Regions from separate parts of the Homo sapiens genome. Here all the other regions are linked to region 2. The links come from fine-mapping of genetic effects on plasma protein levels. A gene starts in region 2. Each other region holds a variant in brackets. All regions are shown on one strand. Distances are from middle to middle.

The links. A credible set is the group of variants that fine-mapping cannot tell apart. PIP is the chance, under the fine-mapping model, that this variant and not a neighbour inherited with it causes the effect. Protein levels are from antibody-based Olink assays in UK Biobank. Linkage for the fine-mapping came from a reference panel and not from the study's own genotypes, which makes the PIPs less certain.
Region 1: its variant is the best candidate, but not a certain one, in a credible set for the plasma level of the NTRK3 protein (UK Biobank, PIP 0.88).
Region 3: its variant is the best candidate, but not a certain one, in a credible set for the plasma level of the NTRK3 protein (UK Biobank, PIP 0.73).

What each region holds. Positions count from the first base shown.
Region 1 is chr15:87,923,688-87,931,866 of GRCh38, reverse strand. NTRK3 (neurotrophic receptor tyrosine kinase 3) reads left to right here. Exons shown (of 20, transcript NM_001012338.3): 17 at 2,433-2,676. Among named protein-coding and RNA genes, the nearest start is that of MIR11181, 18 kb to the left of the region's middle. The variant A/G (reference allele first, on the strand shown) is at 3,569.
Region 2 is chr15:88,251,686-88,259,864 of GRCh38, reverse strand. NTRK3 (neurotrophic receptor tyrosine kinase 3) reads left to right here and starts at 3,126. Exons shown (of 20, transcript NM_001012338.3): 1 at 3,126-3,221; 2 at 3,379-3,581; 3 at 3,697-3,959. The coding sequence starts at 3,712. NTRK3-AS1 (NTRK3 antisense RNA 1) reads right to left here and starts at 7,135. Exons shown (of 4, transcript NR_038229.1): 1 at 6,387-7,135. RefSeq lists enhancers at 1,273-1,567, 3,908-4,444, 4,445-4,982.
Region 3 is chr15:87,967,055-87,975,233 of GRCh38, reverse strand. The region is part of intron 14 of NTRK3 (neurotrophic receptor tyrosine kinase 3); the gene reads left to right. Among named protein-coding and RNA genes, the nearest start is that of MIR11181, 25 kb to the right of the region's middle. The variant C/G (reference allele first, on the strand shown) is at 3,610.

The DNA of each region.
Region 1 (8,179 bases), 330 kb after region 2:
CTCTAGCCCACTCACCAAAAACTGCTAAGCATCCTCTTGAAGTGGGACATTCAATAGGGTGTCGTGGTTTTGAGGGGCAAAGAAATGAGTTAGTACCAGGCAATGGAATGGAGGACTCTCTGGAGCTCTGCTTATGAGTCAGGTTTCTATAAAGATGGCCCTAAAGGAAATGAAAGCATCTGTGGGATGTTCTAAGCCTTCTAAACCTGGATTCACAATGAAATGGATTCCTTTCCTGGAGAACTTTGTCTTTAGCATAAGACAGATTTGGGTTCATATCTTGGATTTGTCACATCTTAGTTGCAAATTGGAGCAAGTTATTAAATCTTAATTTTCTCTCCTAGAAAACACGACTATTAATAACTGCTTCACGGGGTTGTTGCTATGAGTATTAAATGACTATATGTATAATGCTTAGACAAGTTTTGCAAGTAGTTCAGTGATCAGCCAATGGTAGCTGCTATTGAAGTTATTACTATTACTATTTTGTGAGAATTGTGAACCATGGTAGCTTCTAATCTAGGCAACACTCTTTCTCAATATTCGGGATAGCCCTCACTTTGTCCTTTTGTTCCCCTGGGGCCCAAAGGGCATGCCCTACTTTTCACCACATCCTATCCTTACATTCAGCAGTATCTCCAGCCCCAAGAGCCACCAGCAGGGTTAAAGAAAGCTCCTAGGTGCCTCTGCACTACTGTCATACATGATAAAAGGGAAGAGAAAGAAGATAGTAGGAGGGAAATAAAGAGTGAGAGCCTAGAGTAAAGATAAGGAGTGGAAGAAGCAGAAAGTAAGAAGAAAAGAAAAAGGAGTACAGAAGAAACAGAAAGAAGTGTATAAGGTGAGGGGCAGTGCCAGTGCCTTGCCTTCTCCATGGCAGACAGCATGGGGAATGCATGCCTGTGAGTACAGTTCTACAAGGACTTGCTGACACTCTGAAGACCTCTGTGTCTCTATGGGATCCCTTCCTGAAGACAGCATGGGGGAGTCTCTCTAAATCAAGGCTCGACAGTCTTCCTGGGGCAATTTTGCAGCAAAATCTGAACTTTAGCCTCCACTACTGACCAGATTCCCAGTAGGTTCCATTAATCTGTCTTCCTAGGCTCTATCAGTCGAGGGTGACCTTCTAAAGAATTCTCTGAGACCAGAAGCTCTTAGCAACAGGCCGCACCAACCCTTCCTGGGAGGCATCCTGTCGGCTGTTCTCACAAACACAGCCTCCATAACCCGCAGGCCAACCCTGCCTGCTCTCACATCTCCATATTGGTGGTGTTGAGAGGCAGGCTGGAGTGCACTCTCCAGGCAGACAGAAGGGAGGGCTTCTCTGCTGACCCCTCTTCCTTGTGAGCTGATGCAGCCTTCCTCCTTCTGAGGAGTGAGGTAGGCAGAGCCCACCGGAGATAGTAAAAGGGATGTGCTCCTACTTAATGGTGCTTTTCAGAGGAAATCAGAGAAGCAGTAAAGCAGGCAGAGGCCTTGCTGTACACCAGGGCTCCTTGGTCCACAACTTCATAAATAAGGGCCCTGGGTGTGGTTACGGCTCACTGGGCTTTCTAGAGAAAAGAGTGAATGCTAAAAGTGACTGATATGATCAGGCAAGGTGTTAGAATAACAAATCCGGGCTTGATTTGGGATGGAATGGGTTCTGGGGGTACCCCAGACCCATGCTTCAAGGTCAGAGGCTCTCTCCACTGTGCACTGCTATGGCCATAAGTTACCCAGTGCTAAGCGGTGTGGTGGAGTGGTTAGGAGTGTCCCAGGGCCACTGAGCGTGGACTGCCAGCATCAGCCCTGGGAGCTAGTGGGAGATGCAAATGAGCAAGCTCACCTAGCCAATCAGAATCCTAGGGGGCAGGGCCAGGGAATCTTGGAACAAGCACTCCCAATGTTCCTTTTAGAAGCTCACTTTTTACAGTCACATGTCTGGTTTCAGATCCTACTTCCTGATTTCCCATATGGCCATTCTGGACCTCTGGGACTTTGGCTGAGCAATCTCATCATTTTGTGCCTCAATTTCTTTATTTCAAAATTGGGGTGGGAAAATTGAGTGAATTACAATATTTAAAACAATCAGAGCATATAGTAAGGGCTATGGCAGAGTTATTTGTTGTTTTGCTAATTATTCTATAATAGACATCTAGCACCTGTGAAAATCCTAGGAAGCAGTGAAATATTAAAAAGAGTAGGTTTATTCCCTCTTCCATTTGAGTATGTCTGCTCTCATCTTAGCCAGAATCTGGTTGTGGAGTTTCACCCTTACCCACACGTACATAATCTAATTTGGGGCAGATAAAAATAAGCCATAGGCAGGATGGAAAGGGAAATTTTATTTATTTCTGTGGGGCATTCCAGAGGGCAGGGACCCAGGAAGGCCTTTCTCCTTGATCTCCTGATTTCTCTCTGCCCCCTCTCTTCTCCCCATGCTCTTGCAGGGCCCATGGGCCAGATGCAATGATCCTTGTGGATGGACAGCCACGCCAGGCCAAGGGTGAGCTGGGGCTCTCCCAAATGCTCCACATTGCCAGTCAGATCGCCTCGGGTATGGTGTACCTGGCCTCCCAGCACTTTGTGCACCGAGACCTGGCCACCAGGAACTGCCTGGTTGGAGCGAATCTGCTAGTGAAGATTGGGGACTTCGGCATGTCCAGAGATGTCTACAGCACGGATTATTACAGGGTAAAGTGACTTTCCCAGCTGCAGGACTCAGCCACAGAGCTAGCGCCTTGCTTACATGTCTTTTTCATTGTCCATTAACCCTGTCACTCTGGCACACACATATACACACCCATGCCCAGACATGCACTCAACAGTTATCTTTTGGCCTCTCTTGCATCTTGACATACCTGTTTATTATGTTCTCAATTGCCCACTCCTTCTTTCTTCTTGGACATTTAACTGAACTGTAATCTGTACATTGCAATAACATATGCATTGTGTTCTTACGTGCTTCAATACTCATTCTTCATGTAAACATACTCATACATGTATATGTATGTGCCCAAACACACACACAGACACACCCAACTTGATACTACATTTAATGTCTCCCTACCCAGTCCCAGATCTAGCCTCACCCATGACACATTTTATTCTCTGAAATTATCTTGTGATTATGTAAGAATTATCTTGTTTCCAAAAGTAGATCTTGATGAGAAGAGGAAACCTAAGTAAAGTAACAAAGATGGCTAATATATTGCTGAGCATTATCCAAATGGGCTGGAACAGATGAGGAAAGGAAGCATGTTATCTGTTGCCAACTTTGGAGAGAGGACAGGTTAGATCTTAGAAAAGCTTTCTGATTGTGAGAAGATCCATCCTGCTCAGTTTTACCTTCATATAGTCATCTGCTTTACATTAACAAGAGTCTTATTTTGCTCCTAGAATCTTTTTTTTTCCCTAAGTCTTTGGGAATCTTTTTTTCCATGGATTATTGACTGATTCTGATAGTGTTATTATTTCCAGGGAAAGGATGAATGGCCATGAGTGTCACTTATCTCAGCAAGGGGAAGTATGAGTGCAACCTGAGACACAGAGATAACTTCTGCAAACTGAGTGAGGGCAGATTGCT[A/G]AAAAATACAGAAGATCCAAGGCTGGGAGTGGTGGCTCATGCCTGTAATCCCAGCACTTTGGGAGGCTGAGGTGGATGGATCACGAGGTCAGGAGTTCAAGATCAGCCTAGCCAACATGCTGAAACCCTGTCTGTACTAAAAAATACAAAAATTAGCTGGGTGTGGTGGCATGTGCCTGTAGTCCCAGCTACTCGGGAGGTTGAAGCAGGAGAATTTCTTGAACCTGGGAGGTGGAGATTGCAGTGAGCCAAGATCACACCACTGCACTCCAGCCTGGGCGACAGAGCGAGACTCTGTCAAAAAAAACCAAAAAAACAAAAAAACAAAAAATCTATTTTTGGGACATCAAAGGAAAGAGGAGTTTGGATAGACATTATAAGGAGAGTGTGGGACAATGTTTTGGAGGTCAAGGGATGTCATATTCCTTTTCAGCTGTTATAACAAATACCGCAGATGGGATAGGTTACAAAAAACTGAAGTTTATTTCTCATGGTTCTGGAGGATGGGAATTCCAAGATCAAGGTGCAAACAAATTAATTGTCTGGTAAAGGTCTGCTTCCTCATTTATAGATGGCCATCTGCTTGCTGTGTCTTCTCCATATGGCAGAAGGGTTAACAGATCTCTCTGGCATCTCTTCCATATGAATGCATTGCCCTCATAACCTAGTAACTTCCCAAAGGCCTCACGTCCTAACACCATTACCTTGGGGCTGTTTCAACATATGAATTTGGGGGGTACACAAACATTCAGTGTATTGCCAGGATCATGGCAGCCAATTGTCTCATCTTTGGAGAAATGAGTGATCATACCGTGAGTCAAATAGATATGATTGTCCTGTTGACCTGAGCATAGTGGACCAGAGGCTGGGAATTTGAGGTGTGTGCAGGTCAGTTCTATCTTGATGTTCCTGATGGCCTAAATGAGATCACTCAGACGTTAAAACAGATCAGTCAAGATACTTCATTTTAGCAATAGGTTGGAGAAAAATGGAATGTTTGAGAAATGACCTTGGTTGTTAGAAAATGACTTGTTTGTTGTGCAACCAAAGAATGGCAGATGATGTACCGTTGTGAGAGAATATAAGACAAAGCATACAGTGTCCACAGCAAGCTGGGTAGCCTCACTAGCCACCTGTCCTATCCAGTATTCCCAGGTATGGAAAAGGAGACATGATGTGGCAGTAGTCATAGACCGATGGCCAGGGCAGACCTGCCAGAAAATATCAAAGAGGAGTCTTTCTTTAGTGTCTAGACCATATTTTTTATTCATTTCCAAGAGAGGCATTGGTGTGGTTACTAAGAGGGGGATGGGTCATAGATTTCTTAGAGTGGGGCTGGAGCTGGCATCATTTAATTGCCTTTCCACTTTGTTTAATGGGGTTTGCTGGTCTGTCTGACTGTGCTCAGATCTATGTAGGTGTTGATGAAAACAAGGGATGGCTCATTGTTTTTCTCTGTGAAAGGCAGATGTTTGATTATGCCAAGCTGATAACTACTGACTTCACTGGAGTCTCAGGAAACTATGTCTGACCAGAATGTGCTAACTGGCCCTTCAAACTTGCTTCTAGATGTGCTGTTAATATTTATTGAAACTAGTTTAAAAGAGGAAAAACAAAAAATAAAAAGATCACATCCCCAATTGATATTTCTTTGTCCTTGCCTTAATAACTGTGAACTGTTGCTCTTTATGCCTAAAAGGGCTACAAGGAATACATCTATCTAATTTCTGTAGGTGCCAGGGTAGATTAGAATTTAAGGAAGGGAGAGTGAGGTGGGAAAATGTACACACTACAGGTAACCTCAATTCCTTCTTCATGAGTTCTAAGGGCGATGTTAGCCAAGGCCAGCTAGCTCGAAATGTATGTTTTTGGTCCCAAGGAAGTTTGAACAAAAAAGGATAACTCTTACAGTAAATACACAGCACACCATTGGAAATCTGTGTATTCTACTGATGAGACATTTAAAGACCAGCTTGTGGCATATCTTCATGTTCACTTACTCACAGTGTCCTAATGTATACACCACTCCTCATTCCCTACTTTTCTGTAAAATGAAAGGCAGAAGTAGATTTGCCTGAAGTCACATCAAAATGAACCCTGAAGTCTTATTATCCATATTGGAAGACATTGGAATGACAATGGAATTCTTGGATTTAGGCCTAATCTTACCTGTGTTCACATCCTAATGTGCAACCACCATTAGCAACCATGTAACCTGAATGCATTTTCCTCTAACCTCTGTTCAATTTTTCTATTGTTAAAGTGAGAACAAAAATATTCACTCAACAGAGTTGTGTTGATGTTAAGCAAGTTAATTTGTATAAAGAGCTTGTAGTACAATACTTACTGGATAAACTCCTGTTTATATTATCTTACTAGTCCCCCTCACATCCAAGCCAAGACAACTCTGTGGATAATTTTATTTCCATATGCAATTCCTGGGACAGAGAGAGGGACTCCGTGACCACTAGAAGATAAACTGGATCATGCAGCTGCTCCAAAGGAGTAGAATCTTTACATTGACCACCTCAGGAAAATGTCTTTCTTAAGGTTTCAACATGTATGGAAATACTGCTCATGAATCCTAGAGCTAAGTCCACATTTGGGTGATTTGTGTAAAACTTTTTTGTTCAGTATACATCGGCTAAGGCCTTGGAGGAATGCTCTGATTTGTCAGATCGCGAGAATACTGTGAAGGATTCTCTCTATGAGCTGATACCCCCGGACAGGTTTGTACCTCTCTGCTATCACTGATTACTGAACTCATTTGGGCCTAAGAGTTTGTTGGCTTCTTATGCCTAACACCACTAAGTGCAGATAATCCAGGCCTGTGTGTGTGTGTGTGTGTGTGTGTGTGCATACACGTGTGCTTGCCTGCCCAGTGCAGATTCCAGAATGTGCATATAAGGGCATGGGGAGAGATGGAGATAAACTCCTCCTTATAGTCTTTCTTTTTCATTTTTAATTTGTTAAAACGAAGAGGCACCATCTGGCTCATACATAAGTGGTATACAGACGATTTACAAAGGTGAACTGCCTAATTTCCTGTTACACATTTAGAGAGAGAAAACAAATGTTCCCACACCAGAACACCAGAGCGATTTGTTCTCTCTTCTTAAGACATTCACAATGACAAACACCTTTTCCTTCTGTGAATCACTGACTCAATGCTTCCAAGATTACCTTTACACTGGCTTTGACAAGGGTAGGCTTTGGGTACCATTATATCTTTCTAAGAACATCAGAGAACACTAAGAGATTGATAGTCAAATCTAGTATTAAAGTTTTGAATGTCCTGAAGGGGAGAAGGTTGAGATTTCAGAATACAGATGTTTTCAGATGTTTTGATTTGGGGAGAGGAGTCAATACACTGAGATCAGGGAGGAATGGAATGAGGGGGGAATGGGATCCTACTAATGTAGAGCTCCAGGAGTGTTCCTTTCTGTTCATCCTGCTGTCCTGTGTGCCTGTGTGCTGTCCTGTGTGACAGTACCTGGCACTTGTTAGGCACCTAATAAAAGTATGAATGAGTGAAGTCAGAAAGGGAATTTAGAATTAGGAAATAGGTCATTCCAGACCAAGAGAAACCTAGACAGATAACCAGATGCTCACTTAGGGGAGGTGAGCCTTTGGAGATGATGTGGAATGCAGCTGCAGGCAGCAGGAGCAAGTCTTATCTAATCAAGCAGTGCATTATCCTGGGAGAATGTTCAGAAGAGGCAAACGAGTGATAGTCTGAGTCAAGGATGACCCACTTCAGGTTCTGGTAGGAGACAGAACAGAGTGTCTAGGACATGATGGGGTAAGTATGCTAAAATCCTGTGTGTTTATGACACACAGGTGTGGGTCATAAACAGGTCTGGCAGCAGGTAGTAAGGCACTGGATTCTAAGCTGGAGATTCTGGGTCAGGGTTCCCAGAAACTCCTAGAAAGACAGTAACAGTAATCCTTAGGAAGTGGGAATCATTTAGAACAAGCCAACCTTACTGGAAGAATATTTGATTTTATGGATGTCTTGGTGTCCCCATAGCAGATGAAAAGTTGTAAGCTCTTGGACCCACACTGCCTTGGTTTGATCTCTGCTCCTATAATTCCTGACTGTATGACCTTCGGCAAGTTACTTGCCCTTTCTGTGTCTTCAACTGTAAAATGGAGCCAACATCCCCTATCACACGCATTTTCTGTAAGGACTAAGAGTTAAGAAATATAAAGCTCTTAGGATGATAAATAATAAATATTAATTATTGTCTTAGTCTGTTCTGTGTTGCTACAACAGAATACCACAGAATGGGTAATTTATTAAAGAAAGAGATTTATTTCTTATGGTTCTGGAGGCTAGGCAGTTCAAGATCGAGGGGCCTCATCTGGTGAGGGCCTTCTTGCTGTGTCATAACATGGCAGAAGACATCACATGGCAAAAGACCAAGAATGGGCCAAACTTGCTTTTATAGTAAACCCGCTCTTGTGATAACAAACCCACTCTCATGATAACAACATTAATCCATTCATGAGAGCAGAGCTCTCATGATTAATCACCTGTTAGAGGTCTCACCTCTCAACACTGTTGCATTGGGGTTAAGTTTTCAACAGAGGATCTTTGGAGGACACTTT
Region 2 (8,179 bases):
CTATTATTGACCCTGCACTATGATTTCTGTGAGCAGTGCATGAGCAGGTCATTCTCATCTTCTTAAGCTTAGAATGAAACTTCAAATGTCTTTTTCTGACAAGGCCCCTGCCTCTGAGATACCCAGTTTATTTCACCCTAACTTCACTGTAACTGAATAACATTATGAGGACCCATCCCCATCATTCCCCACCTTTTTTTTTTTTTTCTCCCTCAACAGTCCCTTTGGCCCAGATCCATGTAGAATCAGAGAATCTTCAAGCTGGGAGGGATGACTATGGGGCTGCGATGTGCTTATGAATCACCTGGGAGCTTGTTCTGATGGACATTCTGGTTTGGGAGGTCTGTGATGGGGCCTCAGATGCTGCACTTCTTGCAAGCTTCCAGGTGATATGGATGCTACTGGACAGAGGGCCACACTTTGGGTTTTGAGGATCTGGTCTTAACGTGGTCATTTTACAGATGGGAAAGCGGAGTCCCAGAAAGCTTGTCATTTCCCTGTGGTTAGAAATGAAATTCTGCTCTTCCCCACTCTAGTCTATCACCTGCTTTTTTTTTTTAAACCTTTAAGTTCAGGGGTACGTGTGTAGGATGTGCAGCTTTGTTATACAGGTAGACATGTGTCATGGGGTTTGTCGTACAGATTATTTCATCACCCAGGTATTAAGCCTGGTATCCATGAGTTATTTTTCCTGATCCTCTCCCTCCTCCCACCTTCTACCCTCTGGTAGACCCTCATGTGCATTGTCCCCTCTATGTGTCCATGCGTCACCTGCTTTTGAAAGGGCTTCCCTCTTTTTCAGCTGTCGCTTCCTGCTCAGGCCCAGAGTGTGAGCATAAACGTAGCACCCCATCTTAATCCCATTTTACTGTCAGGATGAAAGACTTCTTGCCCATCAGGGCCCCTTGCTCCACAATCTGCATTTTTACCAAATCCAGAGGGGTTTTTAAAGGTTTTTTGTTGTTGTTGTTTTTGTTGTTCTAACTTATGGATGTCTCTTCTTCTCTGCTTGACATGTTAAAAATCCTCTCTCTCTCTCTTTCTTTCTCTCTCTCTCTCTCTCTCAAAAAAGTGGGCTGGGCATCTTTTGGACACAACCATTTCAGTTCCAGGCTGGAGCACTGATGCTGGGCTGAATCCACTTGGCGTTCCCTGCCCAGGAGTGGTCTGAGAGAGGCTGTGTTTCTCTGCTGCCACCTGCCACCTCCCAAGAGAGGCCAAGTGTTAGGATCTGACTACACCTCAGTTTCCTGACTCTCAGATATTCTAAAGCCAATCCCAGAATGGCACTTGAAGTGACAGGGAAATTCCCAGTGGCCTAAGGACAGCCAGGATTGGCCTAGGGCCAGTAGCAAGTGGTTTGAGAGTCCAAGGAGGTCTTCACACTCTGTCCCCGCCTGCTGGTGGGAGGGCAAAATGCCAGTCTGGAGACAAGGCCATAATGGCGACGGGGGTAAAAATCTCCCTGGGGCCAAGGGAAGGTGGAACGTGACGGGAAGTCGGGAAAACTGCCTTGTATAGGCATGTTCTTTTCTTCCATTTTTTTCGTCCAAGTTTTTACTCCAAGCGACAGTGCCACCCGAAGGCGACCGGCCTGTTTGTGGTTGCGCCTGGGGCAGGCGGTGACACCGGCATACCCCTTCCCCCATCTTGCCTGCAAGTTGCATGACCTGCATCGGAATCCACAGGGGGGCGGGGGAGACTCCTTTCAGATACTGGATGCAGTTGAATTGAATTCAATGTATTTTGCTTCCTCGCCTGCCCTCCTCCAAGCTCGGGAAGGAGAACCCTGCTTTCTTCTGCGTGTGAATGCTGTAGTGTGTCTGCCTGCTCGGACTCCCCTAACCCTTTCTTCTCCTTTCCCACAGCGAATGCTCGTTTTTTTTTTTTTCAGCAAACAGCTCACACTTGGCATCTTTATGTTTTATTAAGAAAAAAATCCCTACCAGCGCAAAAGCGGGGCCCCCCCCACACACACTTCTTTCCCGGATGAGATCTGAGCTCTCGTCGAAAGCTGCACCTGCTTTGCGTCCCTACCAGGAAGGGGTGCTTGTGTGGGAGGGAAGGAGGAGGTTCTGCGCCCCCGAATCCGGAGAAAGCAGCCCGCCCGCCCCCTCACCCGGCAGCCAGCTCAGCTCACCCGAGAGCTGAGCCCGAGAAGCCGGCCTCTGACGGTGCTGGCGTGGCGCTTGCCAAAATATGCCCCTTGCATCTCAATTTCCCCCGGCCATTTCTCTTGCACGCACAGCTCGCCCGGGGCCACCTCGGCTCTCCAGCGCAGCCCTTTCGACCCCTGTTTCTTCCTTCCCCGATCCATGCCTGCTCAAGGCCGAATGCAAAACCCACCTCCAAGAAAGCGCAGCGGGCACGGGGGGCACCTAGCGTGCCATGTCCCGCAGTCCCCTCCCAGCCAAGACCAGAGCCCCAGACTCTAGATTACGGAAATGAGTGTCATTCAGACCAAGGACTGCGCGTCTGCGGTCCCGGTCCCCGGCTCTGGGTGCTTCTCTGGGGTGTCTGTGCGCTCCGGCACCCCCCGTCGCCGTCCGTGAGCCTGCGCCCCCCACCCACCCAGGCTTGGGAGCGCCCCCCACCCAAGGCTTGGGAGCACTCCCCAATCACCTCCGCCACGTTCATTTCACTTCCTACCGCGGTCCGGATTGCAGCAAAACCGGGTAGCGCGAGGGCCAAAAAGTGGAAAGGAGAGCGCCTTTCCGTGTCGTGCAGCCAGCTCGCCAACTCTCCCTCCCCAGCCCCGACCCTCGCAATCTCAAATGCAACTTTTTCCCTTCGGTCTCGGTTTCCCCCGGGCTGCGGCTAGCGGGCGCCGCGCTGCGAGGCGTGGAGCGGGCGGGCTGCCGCGAGGCTGCGGGTGGCGGTGCCGGCTACAGCCGCGAGCCGGCGAGTGGGTGGGTGGGTGGGTGGGGAGGAGGGAGAGGACAGGCGGGGAGAGAGACGGGTGTGGGGAGGGGAGGGAGGGGGAGATTCCGCTCTCCTGCCGCTCCCAGCCCGGGCGGGGGGCGGGGGGAGGAGGCCGCGACGAGGGAGGGGAGGAGGGAGGGAGGAAGGGAGGGAGGGAGCCGAGGAAGACGCTCCGATAACCCGTGCGTTTCGTAAGGCTCGGAGCACTTGTACATTTCTGCAGCCGCGCGGCGAGCCATTCGCGGCGGCTGCTGCAGCTCCTACTGCATCTTCCTTCTCTTCCTTTCCTCGGGCTCCGGGTGTGTGTATGTGTGAGAGTGAGTGTGTGTGTTTTGCAGGTGCGTGGTGTGTCCGTTTTAATTCTGCCCAGTAGGTGGGACTTGGTGACTTTAGCACCATTTTTTCCTTTTCCTTTTTTTTTTTTGCCTCCCCACCGTCTGTTGCAACCCTGCAAAGTCTCGGAGTCGGAGAGCGCGCCTCGCTTCCAGAGCCCCCGGACCCGGCGAGTCAGCGATCGCCGAGCCGGCCACCATGCCCGGCAGACCGCGCCACTAGGCGCTCCTCGCGGCTCCCACCCGGCGGCGGCGGCGGCGGCGGCGGCGTCCGCGATGGTTTCAGACGCTGAAGGATTTTGCATCTGATCGCTCGGCGTTTCAAAGGCAGAGGCCCCCCCTCCCCCTTCCCCCCTCCCTCGCCGTCTTTGTTTCCTTCCCCCCCTGCTCTCCCCACTCCCCCCACCCCACCCCCCTCTCCTCTCCTCCTCCTCTTTTTTAGAAGCAGCGATCGGAGATGGATGTCTCTCTTTGCCCAGCCAAGTGTAGTTTCTGGCGGATTTTCTTGCTGGGAAGCGTCTGGCTGGACTATGTGGGCTCCGTGCTGGCTTGCCCTGCAAATTGTGTCTGCAGCAAGACTGAGATCAATTGCCGGCGGCCGGACGATGGGAACCTCTTCCCCCTCCTGGAAGGGCAGGATTCAGGGAACAGCAATGGGAACGCCAGTATCAACATCACGGACATCTCAAGGAATATCACTTCCATGTAAGTCAGGCGGCCGCTCCCCAGCCTGCCTCCCCCGCGCTCTGCGTCTCCCTCCTGCCCACCCGCGGCCGGGAGCCGGCCCTCCGCCCGCCCCAGCTCGCCGCTGCCCGCCGCCCGCTGGGCGCGCGTCAGGCTCGCTCTGGCTCGGGAGATGCTCTCCGGCTGCGCATTCCAGGTGACTCCGGCCCTGGCGAGGCGCGATCCGGCTATGCGTGTGTGTGCCTCTCCCCGGAGAGGACCCCGGCCGCCGAGGGCACGCGGGGCCCAGCTACCGCCCGCCTCCCAACCAGTTGCTGGCTCGTTTCGATGGTGCAAATTGTTTTTTTTTGCTCCCCACTAAATAGCAACAGTTTGGCCACGCTCAAGTGGAATAAAGTAGACGAGGTTCGATTCTTTGGCAGAGGCGGCAGCGGCGGTGGCAGCGGCGGCAGCGCTTAGCCGGCAGGGAAGGTGACAGATAGGGACTGCTCGCGATCCAGCCGAGGTGTTTAACTATTTCCATTTGGAAACAGCAAAACATGCTGACAAGTAAACAAGTTGCGAGCTGGCTGCTCGCGGGGAGACTTTGGACGTGTGGAGGCCGTCATGGACGCCTACCTCTTCCCTTCCCCTCCTGCAGCCCGCCCTCTCCAGCCCCATTTTGGGCATTTCCGAGACACCCCTTTGCCACCCTCATCTGCATCTGGGCGCCTACAGATCCCTTCCCAGTTTGGGCTTTGATAACTGCTCGGAACTATTCCGAGTCAGGATGGCGCAGGGAGAGGAGAGGGCGTGTGTTTTGAGGAGAGGGGTTTCTTGTGTGATCGTGCGGATCGGTTCATTTGGAACATTCAACTCTGGCTGGCTTTTGCTTGGTTCTGCCCCCTCCGAGGGAGACCAGTGGTGGCCTGCTCTTTTCTCCTTGCTATTTTTCTTTGGTGGGGATGGCAGCAGACGCAAAGGAGAGGACAGATCGAGGGCTGGGGACTGGAGAGTCTGCTCCTCTTTTCTTTCGTTGACCTCGGCCAGGTGACCCCTTCCTAACCTACCACCCTGGAGAAGGGTGTGGACCATACTGGAATTGCTCAGAGGATAATTCTCACCTCTTTTCCCCCAAGGCTTCCAGCCCTTGGGGACCCTCAGCAATGGGTAGGCAGCTGAGAAGGGTTTGTGCTGAGGTCCTGGCCAAGGTCTGGAGGAAGGCATTTTGGGTGGCTCTTTACCCCTTCGACGGACTTAAGGGGGCCGGACCTGCCTTTGGTGCTGCTCTGGGAGCACCTCCCCTTGCTTCAGCCCAGGGCCATGGGGCTGCAAAGCCTGGAGGAATTGCAGTCCTGCTCTTTGGAAAGCCCACCAGCCCTCTCGGCTTAATGGAGCTTCTGCTTGCGCTCTCGCAGCTGACAGTTTGAGGGAAATGGATAGCCCAGGAGATGTCTCTGACTCCTGGCCCAGGAGACAAGCTTGACCCATATCTCAGCTCTGCTGTTCACCCCCTTACCCTCTTCAACCCGGCCAGAGATGACAAGATAAACAGCCAAGGGGCGGGGGTCAGCAGGGAGGGCAGGAGGAACAGGACAGACCCAACTGTGCCTCTCCCCCACTGCAGGCCACAGGCTTCCAGCATTCCCAAGGATGCAGGGAGAAGGGTTCAGAGTGAGACTGTTAGGGAAACTCAGACTTGGAAGTGCATTGCTGGGGCTGTATGTGTATGTGTGTAGGGGGTGGATGTGGGTAGTAGGGTGCTGGTGAAGGTGGGAGCTGAGCAGCCAGTCTTGGTGCTCAGAAGCCTGACCTAGAGATTGCCAGGGGTGGGCCAAGGGTTGGAAGAAGGGGCCCCTGGTACCCAGCCTGGGTCTCTGGGAATGGGTGAGCTGCATCCAGTGTGCTGCTCCAAGGATGTGTCTGTCTGTAGAAAGCCAGTGGGAGGCAGGGATGGTCACAATCACGTAGGCTCTTTATAGCCACACAGAGGTGTTGCTCCTCTGAAAATGATGCTCAGGGAAGCAGTTTCATAGGGCAGAGTTGGGTTAGCCTTTCTAGGCTGCCAGAAAGGTCTGTGATGGGAGGGGACTGGGGTGGCCTCTTGCCCTCTTTGGTACTGGAGGGCCTCAGGAGGGCGTCTGGGAGGATAGTGAGCAGGGAGTGGATCTGGAGCCCCTCTGTGTGTGTCCCCATTCTTGTTTCAGGACTTGGATTCTGAGAGGCCATCAGGACTCCTTTCTCTAAATCCACCCAACACCAAAGAACAAGGGAAATGGATTCCCACAGGAGCTGTGCCAGTGGCAGGTGGGGGAGGGTCAGAGGTCATGGGTCAAATGACCTCTCCTTGCCCCATCTTTTCCCCAGTGCCCTGTTATATCTATGGCTGGTATTGACTGAGCTCGAGAAGAGCCCAGATTTCCACTCCAGAGCCAGGGGGCTGGAGAGAGGGCGGAGAGTCACGCTTACCCCGGAAAGTCAGCATCCCCATCCCTGTTTGACTTCTGAGGAAATGGAGGCTTGGGGTGGTAAGGTCACTTGCCCCAGACACACAATCCCAACAGGAACCCCCACTGTGTGGGGCTGCATATGGAGCAGGCTGGAAGAGGGATGTGCGGGCAGAGAGAAGCACCCGCAGCTGGGGTCAGTTCTTGTTTTAGTATGACTTGGGAAGAGGGCTTCAGTTGAAGCCCGTGCCTTGCTGGAGAGTTGTTCTTCAGATTTCTGATGTTATCAAGGAAATGGGACCAAGAGGTCCCCTAGCTCCCTACTGGCCTGAAGCTCTTGATGCTGGTGGCTGCCCCAGGGTATAGCTTGGGCACACTCTGGGTAGAAGATGCTGAGGCCTCCACAGTTTCACCCTCTTGTTCTTCGGGCTGTAATGTTTCGAGATCCTTCCTTCAAGTGCTGAACTGATTGTAACTGAGTTTCCAGAGGGACAAGAGGTTTCCCTGTGGTTCTGCTTCTCAGGGATGGTGTGTGGAGTGATTCCTGTGTGGCCATCCAAGGAAGCTGGCTGGGAACTGCCTCTGATGGGGGAGGCCATCTCCCCATTCAGCTGCCCTGTTTGTATCTGGAGGAAATCAGTTGCAAGGCATCAGAGCATAAGTGTGGGTCTCACCTCCACCCCTCACCAGAGCCACGCTCCTCCAAAGGGCCCTCCCTTTTGGCCCCTTTCTGCCCAGGAGGCCAATCCCTTTGCCTTTGCAGCTGTTGATACACAGGAACCTCATGGAGCCTGGAAGGGTCCATGCGCAGCCACACCCAACCAGGCTGTGACGTCACAAAGGCAGGAGGGTGGTGGCCATGGTGGACTGTCTGGGCCGCTTTGCTAGGCCAGGCCTACCTGGGGCTGGGTTGGAGTGGTATGGTCTTTAGCTGTTAGAAAGAAGATGAAGTGGGAGAGGATGGCATGGCTGGACCAGGTATGCTTGGGGCTGGCTACCTCGGCTTGCAAAGACCACGGGCTCTTAGCTGGGACTCTGAGTCGCCAGCTGGGTCTCACTCTGAGCCGCCACAGGGTCCCTGGCATTTGGCAGCTCTCTGGTCCCTTCATTTCCATGGCCCTCCCTGAAGGCCCTCTTCTGGCTGGCTGAAGGATCATTCGGGGCTTTGGCCGTCATGTTGGCTCCTGAGTCTCATTCTTTCTAAGGATCAAGGGGAGACCCAGCCTTGACAATGACCCAGCAGGGTATGAGCCAGGCCCCAAAGGCATCATGGGGCTCACTCTCGGTAGGCACAGTTTGGTGCTCAGAACCCCAGGATTAGGACTAGGTCTGAGAGAGGTGGGCAGAAATGTGAGGGGCTGTTGACATGAGATTTGGAAGCAGGAGTAGTTACAGCCCCAGAGAAAGGTACTTCCAGGATCAAACCTGGAGACCTTGGTCTCCTGAGGCCCTGGGGTTTTCCACCAAGGAAAGGCTATTGGTGGCTCCAGAGCCAAGACCCCCTGCCCCAGGAAGCCCAGCAGGTCAAGCTTCTGTCATACACCCTGGGGCCAAGGGCATCTGCTCTGCACCTCCATGGGACCTGAGGCCATGACAGCTTTGGGCAAAAACCAGCCCAACCTGGCCACTGCTTTGAAAGTCCTCATCTACTGGCCCCAGGAAGGCTAAGCCTGCAACCTGGAAGGTTCCTTAGGGTCCTAGAAGGCTCCTACTACCCTCCTGCCTGGCTGAACAGGAGGTGCTGCTGTGAGAAAGGGAGGGCCTGTCCTTGCCTTGCCAGTCCCTGCCAGCTGCTGCTTCTGTCCAACTCTGTAG
Region 3 (8,179 bases), 280 kb after region 2:
CCCTGGAGAGGCTGGACTTTTTTACTAGCATTACATGATGAGGTCCTGGAACTGGTTGCCAACCTCCCAAGAATGGGTTTACTGTGGGGCATTAATAGTAATAATTCTATGTAACTTATGAAGCACTTACTCAGAACCAGTCAGATTTTACCCACAAGGAAGCTGAAGCTCAGAAAGATTGAATAACTAGCTCAGGTTTCCACAGCTTGAAACTGGCAGAACCAGGACTGACAGGGGGACTGCCTGACACCTCAAAATGCTTTTGGCCACTCTGCAGCCCCCTAAAGTAGCACATCTTCTGCTCCTGGAAGGCTATGATTGTGAAACACCACCTAGGTGCTCCCCCCTCCAACCCCACTCCACTCCTAAGACAGAGAAGTCTTTCAGGGGTCTTCAGGGATGAGCACCATCCCTGACTTCCTTCTGGAACTTTTGGGACAGGGTGATTTTAAAGACTGGAAAAGAACATCTGCAACGTTCTTTCCTCTCATTGTAGCATTTAGTGACTTGGGGGTGTATGAAAGCATGGTTGGGCTTAGATCTGAGATTAATCACATGTCTTACAGTTGGTGAGATTCCCAAGCAATGATGGCCTTTTTGATATTGGGGAGGACTCATCATACAGTTGGATGAGACCAACCTGATCCTTAGGATAGCAGTTAGGCTGCCCAGGTCTGGGCAAGGGTGAGAAGCTTCAGATAGGAAGGTGGTAGAAGAAAGGATGAGACCAACCTGATCCTTAGGATATCAGGTTAGGCTGCCCAGGTCTGGGCAAGGGTGAGCAGCTTCAGACAGGAAGGTAGTAGAAGAAAGGGCCTTGTCTGACTACCCACTGTCACTTAACCTTTCTTCAACGCACCTCAAAGACCTCCTGATATGTCCAAGCTCAGCCATGCAATGCTCACCCTAAAAAGACCAAACACAAATCAGGCTCAATTTGGAAGTCAAGAATCTGACCTCTAGCCACCTCTGTCTCTTCTTTTGTGCGGGAATCCCTTTCTGCAGCCAAGCTCCCAGCAGCCACATCCTCACCTCCACCTCCCCAGCCACAGGTGTGACCGCAGCACAGCACTGGGCTGTGACACATCCCCTGGCTCGTCCCAGTTCCCTCAGGTCAAGACCAGGCATGAGCAAAGGATCAAGCATCTCAGATACAATGGTGAGGCAGCAAGGGAGGGTTGGATGCCGCGGGAAAGCTCAGGAGCGGGCAGATCAATGCAGGACGACTTCATTGTTGTGTAGCTTTCTGCACGGAGCCAGACATGGATTAGGCAAAGAGCCGGAGCCTTTGTTCCTTCAGGGTTTACTGACTCCTGTGCTCTGGCTAGACTCGCACATTGCTGCCAGCATGACTCTGAAAGCAAGAGCAAAATGAAGGTGGCAGGGAGGGAGAGACAGGGAGGGGGAGAGGGGCGATGCTGGCTGCTTGGAGTCTTCTCTGTGAAGGGCCCAGGGAAAACTCTTAAGCATGACAGCAGAGACGGGAGGAAGGTGGAGAACAATGGGGAGTCTGGCTTCCATCTAGACTGTCCAGCACGGGCCTGGAGCTCTCCTCCTCCTCTCTCCCAGCTCTCCCCCACCCACCACATTGCCAATCTTTAATGCTGGCTGATGTGGGCGAAACTGCTTGCAGCCTCCAGATTCCTTGGATAGCTCTGGTTCTGCATTTTGCCTTTAGAAATCCTACTGTTACCACCCCCTATACTTCCCACCTCCCAAGAAAACCTCAGCCTAGATCTGACAGTATATTTCCAGAGCTAAATAAGACTCCTTCTTCAACCCTACTTGAACCCAAAAGTGAGTTGAAGGAGATATGCTGGCAAGAGATAAGTCCCTTGTCTGCTTTTTTGGGTGGTTCTGAAATTCCATCAGGATTCTGAGGCCCTCTTGGGTAGGACTTTTGTTCCAGTTTCTCCTACTCAGTGGATAAAACTTGCATAGAGTGACCCCAGTTTCCCTTGAAATTAAATCTTGATAAGGGAAGAGATTTCTGCACGGGTGATAAGGTCTAACACCCCTCTGTGTTTTTGCCCCTTTTCATTTTGGCACATTTTCCTTCTATCACAAAATATCTGGGTGTTTGTGCCTGAGAGAGCTAGATCTTCTCTCCTCATTATGCTTGACTTCTGGGTGGGTGTGAATGCATTGCTCAAAGGTTCTGTATGCTCCTGGGCCAGGATGGCGAGGAATGACAAAAACGAGGGGGACAAGGAAGATATCAGAGGCAAACCTTTGACTGGGGCATGCTCTGCTTTGAGAGAAGGGAACAAGAAAGACAGGAGCACTTCTGAGGAGCACAGATCCCACAGGGACGTAGAAGGTACTGATGGCTCAGATTTGGTATCAAAGGCCTCCAGCCCAGGTCTGTGTGGGTTGTATCTGGGAAGGAACTTGGAACTCTGAGGTAGAGGAAAACGGCAGGGTTGCAAATTACCCAGAGAACTGAGCTGTAGAGAAATCTTAGCTGAGGGCTCTGGTGGGACTTTCAAACCAAGATACATGAGCCTTCCATATGGGACCAGATGGGCACCTGGCTTTCTCAGGATCATGGTATTTTCTCATGACCCTCTACCAAAAGGATCCTCTCAAAGCTTCTCTTAAATAGATGATTTAAGGCTTTGATTTACCTATGGGTGGGGACTGGGGCCTTTGGCGTAAGTCAAGAAGAATGGAGCTTGGCTTTTCTGAGAGCCAAAACCCTCGAGCAGTTCTCACTTCACACCCTAAGAGTAATGTCAAGTAATGTCTGAGTTTGGAGGGGTGGTCAAAATCCCCTGCTCAGCTATGGAGAGGGTTTGCAGAGCAAGGAGTGAGGCTGCCCAAAGGCATCGTTCCAGTATGGCAGTCCCTGACTTTTGTCTTCTTCCAAGTTTGAGGGACAGAACATCATGTCACCTCAGAAAACACTACCAAACCTGGCTTTGGTAAGTAATGCTGGAAGCCTTTGTGGATTGCAGTGATGACCAGCTTGTCTTCATGGCTGTCTTTGCCTCAGTTTCTGCCACCTGTGTGCTGTTATCATGGCAGCTCAATGAAGCCTAGCTCTGCCTTTGGAGACCTCACTGGAGCAAGTGGCCTATTTCCCTGAAAAAGACACATTCTCCCCTCCCTTGCCCTCAAGTTCATTCTGCAGTGAGAAGGACAAGGACTTAGCCTTGGCAAAGGGGAAAGTGACTTCACTGCTGTCTAATATGGCCTGGTGATACCTCTGTTACAGAGTTCTGATAGACCACTTACTTTCTCACTCCAAAGCTCACACTACCTTCAGTCTGTTTGGGACCTCGTAATGTCGTTTAAAAATCACATTGTGGTATTCTTTGCTCTGCAAGGCTTGCAATAGCCTTTGGTCAAAAGTCATGAAATCCTGACCTTCAAAAACGCACTTCTCTTAAAAAGAGAGGGTGTGGAGCTGTGGGGAGCACATGTGCTCTTCTAGGGATGGGGCAGGTCTACAGAGCCTGTGACATGGTCCTTGGCAGCTGCACAGGCCTAGGGAAATATTTACCTCTCACAGCTAGGTTCTTGAGCGTGTCGGGAGCTCATGACATGGAGGGTCCTCTAGTTTTAAGCTGAAAGGGTTTAGCCTCTGTGACGCAGGGGACCCCTGCA[C/G]CTACAAAGGCTAATTTCCAGTCTTTCTCAGCACTGGGTCAGACAAGCAGTCTCCAAGCTCTGCCCTCTTGCTGCCAAAGTCAAGGCAAGGGTGACAGAAGGAACATTCCAGAGTACTGGCTAGATACTAACTAAATCTAGCCTATTAATTATATTCTGTCAGAATCTCTGGATGCTCTTGCTATTAATTCTGAAAGAAAATTCACATGGCAGAGAACATGAGAGTAAATCTCAAACAACTTCTGTCAAGACTGCTAGTTCCTGACAGCTCACCCTGGCCAGGAGGGCACAGCCAGGATCTGTGATGCTCTCTGGTTGCCCCCAACCGGCGACCATAGCTCCTCACTGAGGCCTTTTGCTTCAGAGGGAGCCAGATATAGAGCTGGCCAGGGAGAACTTGAGTCTGTTTCCTCCCACTGTCAGTGGGCAGCAGGGGAGGCACCACCAATATAGAACATATTCTGAGAATGTCCTTCTTGGGAGAATTTAAATTCTAAGTTCATGTTTAAATGACTCACAGAATCGTTCAATCTTTATGGCTGTCAATTTGGCATTTCTTGCTACCATAACAGGAGATTGCTACACAGTACCTCTGATACCAAATGGCCAACCTAGTCGTTAAGAAGACCAGAATAACCCCACTGTGCATTTTCAGGATGGTGTCTTTGGCCATCTTAATAATTTTATTGGGTCAATCACTTGACCAACTGTTATCCTGCATAAATTGGTCTGTTTTCTGGGCAGAGCTTCAGGGCCTGCAATATGGTTCTCCCTTAATTTGAAATCCCCAACTTGCAGAAAAATCTTTTTCTCTTCCTCCAGTTACTAGACAAATGATGTTGTAAGGATCAAGTGCTCCCCTTTTTATTGATTGCAGCAATGTTTCTCCTTAGTCTCATGATATGCCAAGGATCCATCAGAGAACTTTGGAGAATGTTGCACAATATGGCCAGCTCTTAGAGTTTCACAGTTTGCATTAGGATATCAAAGGCTCCAAGAAGTCCTGCTGTAAACAAACCTTATTCTACCTCTTTCCAATTCTAATTAAACACAAAACATTCTTCATTTAATATCTATTAATAGACTCAGCACACACATGTTAGAAAACACTGGGTTATAGTGTGATCAGAAGCTTTTAAAGAAGAATCAAGCAGGATGTGTTCGTCAACCACCCACTTCTTATATCAAGAAACCACCACACCCAGCACGCTACCCAGCTCTAGGCTCAGCCCTCACTTCTGCCTTCTACGTAGAGTCAGAAAAAATTCTGGTTGCTGATGGATAGACACTCTTGTGAAGATCAGGAAACCTTCGCTGTGATATCTCAGAAGAAAATGGTAAGTCATTTCACATAAGAGCTTGAGACCTCAGCATTAAACCTGGCCATCCGCCCAGGCTGGTGGAGGTGACATCATCTAGTGGTAGCATACAGCAATGAAGACCCGGATCCCAGTCTCAACTCTACCACTAGCAAAATGACATGGGGTAAGTTACCTTTCCTTGTTCCATATTTGTCTCTGAGTAGCTAGTAGAGTTTGCTGATCCTCATGTAAAAGACCCTGCCTGGACAGATGCCCCAAATACCATGTCCCCATGAGTCACTGTTGTCTCTTAGTGGAGGACATCTCTTGGTTCCTGGTCCTTCTCTCTCTCTGAATATGTTGTGTATAAGGCAAACTGAGTGAGAGAGATGGCTGCCCCTTTGGGTGAGGATCAGTGGATTTCTCTGGATGAGGGTGGAAGCAGATGCTTGGGGGTTAATAGACCCTCTCTGTCACAGCTGGACAAGGCCAAGCGGGAGTTCTCGGCAAGATTTTCTGAAATTGATCTCAAGAAGGCAGCTCTGCCTAACAAATAGTCTGAAATGTCAAAGTATAAATGTTAAAGCTTGAGGGGTCATTCTCCAGGGAGTTGCCTGGGCTGGCTAGGGAGGGAGAGGAGGAGGGAGAGAGGGACACAGCAGAATCCTTCACATAAAGATTCTGACTTGGTTTTGTGATATTTAAGAAAAAAGAAAACTCTGAATTATTTATAGCACAGAAGATGTAAGCAGGCTGTAGAGAAGTAGCCTGGCTTCACATGATAGTTTATGGCCATTATTTAGCTGCCCCAGCCTTGAACTGGTAAAACTTTTCTCATTAGTCACATGCTGTTGAGCTCTACTTGAGCTATCTATCTATCTATTCTTCTTATTATTGCTATTATCATTATTTTAATCAAGAAAATTCATGTCCTTCAATATATGAGTTGGGGGACGCAATTTCTGGAAATGATATTTGCACAAAGCAGGAGTTACCTCTTTCCCTTAAAGGGACTCTGGCACACGCGTCAGTAACTCTTTCCACCCCTGTGGGTGTTTCCAGCCTGTGCCTCTTCAAGCAGGGATTCGGAAGGCCCCTGCTCTGATATGAGTGGGAAGCATCTCCGTTTGGGCCTGGGCACCAATTGGCCATGTCAATCTGGGAAGGTGAATTTCATCTCTCATTCGTTCCCTCTGAAAGATGAAGGCAATTGTCCTATGCCTCTTCTGAGTATGCTGGGCATAGGAAGGATAATTCCATTGTGTTCAAAATACCTTGGTACCTGGCAGGGGGTGGGGGGATAGCATCTATGTTATGTGAGGAGATAAAAGAAGTAAAGAAATGTTAAAAGGTTAAATAAAAACTGATTGAAGGATTGGTGGTAAAGCTGGGGGGAATGAGTTCTTTCATCTGTTTATTTTGGTCAGTGATAAAATGAATGCTTCATGTTGATAATCATATCCTGATTCTATAGCATGGGTAATTGAAATTCACCAATAATCCCCAAATTGCAGTTAGAATCACAAGCTTCACATGCTCTCTCTTCCATCTCTACACATGGTACAAACACGCTCTTAGTCACTCTCCTAATTGTTTTTGCATACCCTTGACAATACTCTGGGAGATGCAAACACATGGAGTCAACTTTTGGTCAGTTTAGGGGTGGTGAGGTGAGGTTAGTCAAACTGCAAATTAGATCATCAGTAGAGCTCCAAACAAGCAATATTGTATTTAGGAGGTGTTGCTTTTGTTGAAGATATCAATACTTTCGTTTCTTTCCTAGACCTGTTTTTTTTTCTACCTTGAAGAACCTGGAGAACATTTTGCAGTTAAAATGTCACAGTGACACTCCTGTTATAAAACTCTGAACGTGTACATATTTTTACCCTCACTAACTTACTCTACCTCCCAGAAGTCTTTGAAGTGTTTTGCCTCCACTCCCTACTTGCTGTGATGTAGAAGTTAGGCTAGCACCATTGCTCTAGGGCAGTGGTTCTCAAAGTTTTTGGTCTTGGGACTTCTTTTCACTTAAAAGTCATAGAAACCCCAAATGATGTTTGTTTCTGTGGGTTATATCCATCATATTCACTGCATTTGAAATTAAAACTGAGTATAATTTAAAAGCTCAAGTATACACACACATTCCATGTAGCTGTCAGGATGATGACATCATCACATGTCTGGAAACCACTGGACAACTTCATGAATAATACCTGCGAGACACGAGAGTAAAAAAGGCATACACTATCTTACTATTGCTGGGAAAATAGTTTTGACACATGAATCTCCTGAAAGGGTCTTGAGCCCACCAGGGACCTTTGGACCATTTTGAGACCTGCTGTTCTAGGAAAACAGGCACAAGCAGATTCTGAAATCAAACCTGAGTCCCTTTGGAGCCAGGGAAATCTACCAGTCATGCACTTTGATCCAAGTGTAGAAGTCCATCAGAATTCCATTTCTTTACTCAGACATCACTGACTGCCCCATGGGTGTTGACTTAAAGCAAACTGGCTACAACCATGCATGTTCAGTTGCTAGGAATGTGGAAAATATACAAGAAAGACTTCACCTATTATAAGAAAACAGAGTGGGGGCTGTTTGCTTGCTCTGGAGAAGAACATGGGCTTGATGTCACAGTAAACATTATTGGTTGATTGAAGAGACTCAGCACGAACAGGATTTACAAAATCCCATTGGTGAGAGCAGGAGGCATGAATGGCATGGGATGAGAGAATTTATAAGCAGCACCTTGCTGGTTGGGCATCCCTTCATTGCACTGTAGCTCTCATTGTGCATCACATTTGGACTTGTTTAAGGAACATGTGAGGCTCGCAGTGCTCTAGCCAGGACCTATGGGAGTGCCTATTTAAGTTTAGACACTCTGGCACCTCCTTCCTCTTTCTCCTAAGCTGGGCAGCTTCGGTATAGGAAGATTGGACTATGAAATGCTTTAATGTCTAGGGAGCTTCCTTAGGTTAACTCTGTATAGCACCCAGCACACCACCCAGCAGAGGGACCTGTCTCATCATGAGGTCCTAAGTGGGTGACAGTGTTCATGCCTCTTCCTGTTCATCATTTATACCCCGGGGAGCAAGAACTGCCCTTCTGTGGGATTATTTCACAAACCCACCGGAATAGGGTCTTTCAAGGAATACCTCTGAGATCATGAGCAAATGTTGCTTAATTGACTCATTCTTCAAACATATTTGGGGCATCCACTCTGTGCCACACACTCTGCTACTAAGTGAGTCAGTTGTATTTCCTGTCAT